Homo sapiens: one gene and its partner. The protein of the gene in region 2 interacts with the protein of the main gene of each other region in a pairwise test. Each region holds a gene or a part of one and is shown on either strand. Other genes may lie near its edges.

The links.
Region 1: the proteins of UBE2W (region 2) and RNF103 interact in a two-hybrid assay, tested with the Homo sapiens proteins (one large-scale study listed by BioGRID and IntAct).

What each region holds. Positions count from the first base shown.
Region 1 is NC_000002.12:86,617,366-86,620,865, forward strand, and holds part of RNF103 (E3 ubiquitin-protein ligase RNF103), read right to left. Parts: intron 3,105-3,500; coding exon 2,965-3,104; intron 649-2,964; coding exon of another isoform or gene 646-648; exon of another isoform or gene 1-645. Other genes in the region: RNF103-CHMP3 protein, read right to left, coding at 2,965-3,096. UniProt on the Homo sapiens protein: Acts as an E2-dependent E3 ubiquitin-protein ligase, probably involved in the ER-associated protein degradation pathway.
Region 2 is NC_000008.11:73,788,791-73,791,862, reverse strand, and holds part of UBE2W (ubiquitin-conjugating enzyme E2 W), read left to right. Parts: 3' UTR 1-3,072. UniProt on the Homo sapiens protein: Accepts ubiquitin from the E1 complex and catalyzes its covalent attachment to other proteins.

The sequences.
Region 1 (3,500 bases), on a different chromosome or scaffold from region 2:
TGCAGTCCGAAAATACTACATACAATTAGATATTCGGAGAGAGAGACACCACATTTACATAAATGTTATTTCAGTATACTGTTATAATTGTTCTATTTTTATTAGTTGTTGTTGTTACTGTGCCTAACTTACACATTAAACTTTATCACAGGTATGTATGTATAGGAAAAAACATAGACTATATAGGATTTGGTACTATCCACGGTTTCAGGCATCCACTGGGGGTCTTGGAACGCATCCCCCTCAGATAAGGGGGGACTACTGTAAACAGAAAATAACAACAATTCAAATTGTTAAAAACAATTCTTGAAAGTTATCCTTTACAATAGATTAATATATATGATCTGAGCTGAAAGAATGGCAAGCAATGGAGACAATATTTCTCTTCTGTTTCTAGTAGATATTTTCAATTTTAAGCATAGTTTTAAAAAGTACAACCCTCTTTTAAGGGCTTAAACCAAGGTGGCTGTGCTGATTGGCTTAGCTGGCTAGTTCACAGTGCCAAGGACAGGGTTTCAATCTCATTCTTCTCAGTTGTCCTGCCAGAGATTGTTCTTTCAGACCAGGCCAGCCATTTGACAGATGTAAGCCACTGGCCTCAAGGAACACAAGCCAGACAGTGGTGGTCAATGCAAACCTTGAGCATCACTGGAAAAATTAAGCAGGTGTCCTACTGCATTATTTCCATACATAGAAAAACCACAGAAATACATTCTATTTTTAAAGAGTTGTTTTTCAACTATTAATACCTATAAGGTTTAAAAATATTTTCAGAGAAAAAAAATTTAGCAACTAGAATTTATAATGCTACCATTTACTATCATTATTTGTCCTTCACTTCATTTGTCACCTTACCAGAGAATTCCTTGCCACTCTCATCTCCTTAATCTGCTTATTTTTCTTCTTACTACTTTCCACTAACTGATGTTATATTAAATATTTATTTATTTGGTGTCTGCCTCTCCCAACTAGAATGTGAGCTGCCTGACAGAGCAAGGCCTTAGCTTGGTGTGTGTTTCTGGTATATCTTCAGGGCCCAGAACAGGGCCTGGCACACCCACAACTGAATAAACTTTTGATGAATTCTGTCACATATTTATTACAGGAGCTTAATTCATGGATATCTTTAACAGGACATCAAAAACAGTAGATCATTTACAAGCCAAGAACATACTGCTAACTATTGAACCAGAATGTATTTGTTGTCTATAGGCAGCAGCCTATATAGCAAAAGAACTCAAGACTTTTGACATAGCCCTTCCAAGTTTCAAAGGTGTGCAACATCTTCACCATTTATTTCCATGGGATCATTCAATGTGGGTGACATTTAGACACTGAAAGCAGGGCAGTGGGACTGGCTATTCAATTCATCCTCAGTAATAAAATCTAAAATTATCAAAACCAGTGTCTTTCTCAATCAGACTATTAGAAATAAGTACCAGAGAAAAGAAACAGAATAACAATATACTTATACATTAAAGCTTTAAAAAAGCTCCACCTTATTTTTCAACTCCAACTGACACAGAAATAAACTAAAATTTAAATAGATAATGTATAGACTACACTCATACTCTCACATTCTCTCCCATTGCTGAACTTAAAAATTACTGAATTAGATTATCCGGAAGGTAAAAGGACAAATGCAATAGGAAGGATACAATAAAGAAAGGCCATGGATGAACAATGTAAATCTCTGGAAGAATTCCCAAACCTCAACCCTTTAGCACAGTGGACTACAGTACCATTTTATCCTTTTTAGATGTATATGTATTTATTTGAGGCCACGTGCAACAGAAAAATATACCTATTTACAATCATACTGCTAGTCAGTGACAGTACCAGACCTGTAACAGCGACAGTACCAGACCTGCAACTAATGTCTCTGAACTCATAGCTTTTCCTACCATATTTTGCAGTCTTTACTCTCAGAAAGAAATATGAAGAAACTGTTTTAATTTTCATGCCCTGAATCAAACTTTGCCCACTCCAGTGTGAAATGATAAGAGTACCAGTCAAGAAATCAGAAGACCTGGGTTTCATCCTGGTTCAATACTACCAACTAGTTCCATGACCTTGGGCAAGCTACTTCACCTCTCAGAGTCTCAGAAAGGGTTAGTCTGATATAATTTCCAAGCTTCAGCCATTCACAGACTACATTAATAATTTTAGCCACATTCACGCTGTTAATTTACTTGATATGTCACTTTGAATGTACAGTTTTAAAATGTAAATAACTTTAGTCCTGTCCTAAGCAAAATTTATGAAATTTATGTTAATATAATTTTTCTAATTTACATTAAAATATGTAAATGATAATGCATGCCCACTCACCATAAATTACATCTTGGAAAGCATAAAATATTTTTAAGGTCCATCATAGCTCTAAAATTCTAATATGCTAATTAAGTCTCACAGTTTTGCTATCATAAAAACAAGGGTTAAAAATTATAATCTCATCATCCTGAGTTACGTAATGAGCACCCCCACCATTTTCCACAACAGCTCCTCTATAGTCACAAAGTTGGCTATTTCCCTAATACAATGATTCCTTTACTTTTACTTTAGGGTTCTTACTTATATATAAAAATTACTCAGGCCACTGAATTAAAAACTGGAGATAATAAAAACTAAGAGAAACAGTGCAAATCACTAAATAAAAGGGATATATATGTGTATTTCTCAATTCAACAAAGGTCCAATAACTAAAATAGATTTGCTTCTGGGGATTCTAAACAAAAAGTTGACCCCCATCCCCCATCTTTCTCTTTCCCACTACTCAATTTTCATCTTCCTCAGTCTCCAAAACCTTTTTAAGAAGATACTGGAGCCTCCCTAAGAGAACTGAGTTATGTGTGAGAAACAAGACACAAGGACACGGAAGTGTCACTGGCTGGTACATACTATTTTGGTAAAAATAATTTTTTTAGGGCTCTCGAATTATCAAATTATTACTGCTTTTCATACCTGAACCAGCCAGATGCCATCTTTTGTGTCTTCCACAAGCTCATAGAAGTGCATTTCACCACTGAAATTGGTACTAGAAACCGATTCGGATGCTTCTTCTTCCTTGAGAGCAGAATAGAGCTCACCCTCCATCAAGTCACCTGAAGAAAGGAAAAGAATAACACTAATAAGGTTGCAAGAATCCTAGATTCCCAATTTCAGTAATTCTATTTTTTACACTGTTAAGAATCATGATATTGTACTTTCATTGTATTTTATAGACAAGAACTACTAGAAGAACCTGGATATACCCACTTAGGAGTCATACATTCAATAAATATGTAGTAAGAACTTCCTATGCATCAGGGAAAAGTGAACAAAATAGACAAAAATCCATCTCTTATAGAACAGGGCTTATATTTTAGTGGGGTTATCACATAATTATTAGGAACTTACCAAATTTGTACCACTCCAAAAAGGCACAACTTTCTTAATTATTTAGTTTTATGAATGACACATACAGGCTTCATATACATTTTTAAACAGTATGGCTTATA
Region 2 (3,072 bases):
ATAAATACCATAAAGTAAACTAAAATGACACAGAGGAAAGTAGAGGAAAATGAAATAATTTCGGTACATCTTATGGTTTAAAGAGTAGAAAATAAGATGAAATATCCTAAAATATAGGAGCACAGACATTTAAAATTCATAATCAGGCTAACAACACTCTCTTGAATTTAGGAATCATTGAAAACTCCTTGCACTTAGATTTAATTTATATGTTAGTTACATTATTAAAAGTCATAAGGCATTTATCTGAGTCATTGCTCTACAGAGAGCAATTAATGGCTTGTAATAATAAAAAGAATATTTCTCTGTAATGCATTGTTGAAAGACAACCAGAATATCAAGAAAATGTATATAGGAATATGCTACTTGCCTCCTCCCTGCATTTCCTCGTGGGGCACTATTTGCGACATAGGCCTACAGAATTAGACTTTCATACTTAGAAGATAAGGTACACTCTTCTTCTTTTATTTATTTATTTATTTATTTTTAGGCCATTCTTCTGGTTTGCCAAATTCTATTAAGACAGTGATACATTTGCTTCCTTATTTATGCATGCTTAGATCATGAACATGATGCCCTTCTTTTTTTTTTTTTTCTTTGGTCAAGTAGGGATTAATGCCATAGGTTTAGAGAGAAGGATTGTTTTCAGTTTTTAAGAGAATTTTTTAAAAATACATTTTATGGTTCTCTTAAGGAATTAATATTCACTTCTGAAGGACTTACTTGTAATATATAATTTATCATTTTAGCCAGCAGGGAAATAAATCATTTTTAATCCCCAGAAGAAAGTGCTGGAAATAGCTTCTATATAGTCAGCAGTTCACCTGGAGAAAGATCTTAATTCCTTGTTGTTTTGACTAGGAATATCAATATTTGGTATAAAATAACTAGAATAGTTTATTACCTTTTCCCTCATGAAATTTTAAATATATGCAAATATATATATCATTAGATTCCTGTGGTGGATAATAATTTCTTCAGATTCTAAAACAGGTGTCTAGTGACTGCTTAATTGTTTCCAAGTTGCATCAAAGATGAATTGGTAAATAATGGAAATGAGTAGTGATATGAAAATGGTTATGTAACTACATATTACTTGTTTCTGGTAATCAAGTCTTATTTTTTAAAAGCCTATTGTTTTTCAGAATTGAGATATTTAAAACTTGTTATAACTTCTTCCTAAAAATAGAAGAGAAGAGGAGGTACTGTGTGTTACAAAAATTTTTTTAAATAAAGAATTCAGTGTCACTAGTTCTAAGCCTTTATGGTTACTGCTGCTTATATTTCTTGATCTCACTTTCATTAATTTTTTTGTACATATCTTAGCTGAATGCTTAAAATTTACAATTATTTGTAATTGTGTATGTAAATTGCTTTTCAAAAAGAACTGAAGCTTAACCATATTCTTCTTTTCTGAGGATTCATTATCAGAATCAGCTACTATACTGTTCTGTGTTATAGTAATGCCGTTACTGCCTGTGCATGATTGAGGTCTGTGAAGAAGGTGTCTTTTAATCTGCACCAACTGGCCCCAATCCTCTTTGTAGTCCTTTTTAAATTGTTTTAAATCTGTCCTTTATTTTTCTTCCTATTTTTCTGCCTCTTCCCACTGATGTCCAATGTGTCAGTCTTCCGCAGTTTCCTTTTCTCACTTCTAATTTATTCTCTCTTTTTTTTTTCTGAGGTTAGGGATTCTACAGAAGGACGATTATTAAAATTATGCCATGAATTTTTGAAAAATTTAAAATGCTCTCCTACAAATAAAATACATGGAGTTTCTGATACTAATTTCAGTTTGTCAGTAGATGGCTAAATTTGTTGAATAATTGACTACTTGGTAAATGAGCTGTTAGCTGTAATTAGTTCTTTAGTACTAATATTAAGGAAATTTTGTTATTTTCGGATGAGGACTCTCCCAAAGCCAAATTATTGTCCAAGCAAATTATTTATTTTTTCCATTTAAATTTCTAAGTCATTTTGAGATGTGGAATGATTATTTTTATTATTTATTTATTTATTTATTTTTGAGACGGAGTCTTGCTCTGTCACCCGGGCTTTAGTGCAGTGCACGATCTTGGCTCATTTCAATCTCCACCTCCTGGGTCTAAGCGATTCTCCTGCCTCAGCCTCTTGAGTAGCTGGGATTACAGGCATGTGCTGCCACACCTGACTAATTTTTAGTAGAGACAAGGTTTCACCGTGTTGGCCAGGCTGGTGTTGAACTCCTGACTTCAAGTGATCTGCCCACCTCAGCCTCCCAAAGTGCTGCGATTACAGGCATGACCCACCACACCCAGCCTGGAATCATTTTTTAAAAATAATTTGTGGGAGACTTGCTTTCTCAACATAAATTGTGTGTGGGTTGTTTTTTGTTTTTTGAGACGGTCTTCCTCTGTTGCCCAGGCTGGAGTGTGCAGTGGAACAGTCATTGCAGCCTTGACCACCTTGGCTCAAGCAATCCTCCTGCCTCCCGGGTAGCTGAGTCTACAGGTGTGTGCCACCATGCCTGGATGGATAGAATTTTTTTTTTTTTTTTTTTTTTTTTTTTTTTTTTTAAAGACACGAGGTCTCACCATGTTGCCCAGGCTGATCTTGAATTCCTGGGCTCAAGCATTCCTCCTGCCTCAGCCTCCCAAAATGCTGGGATTACAGGTGCAAGCCACCATGCCTCGTCTGTTTGCCGATTTAAGACAGGTTTATGTACATCATTATCATTAGAGGCACATAGAATCTAGACATGTACTTGAAACTTAGCTCTCTATCCTGAAAGTTGAAGTTAGGGTTCTTTGATCCTGGTGAGATGTTAATTGTAATTTTAATTTTCATATGTTAATATTGTGACTTGTATTTTGTGATGAGTCTCTAGAATGATTAAATGACTATTTTTTTATGAAAAATTTTTTGTTAATAAAATATCTGAGGGTATTTTGAGTATGTGGAAGGAATGCCTGAATAGAAGCTGATCTATCTTAACATACCTCAAGAACTCCAGTTTTAATATGGTGAGTGAGGAGTTGACTGGGAAAAGGAGAGATCCAATTCTTGTTCTAGTCCTTGGCACATACACTCTCT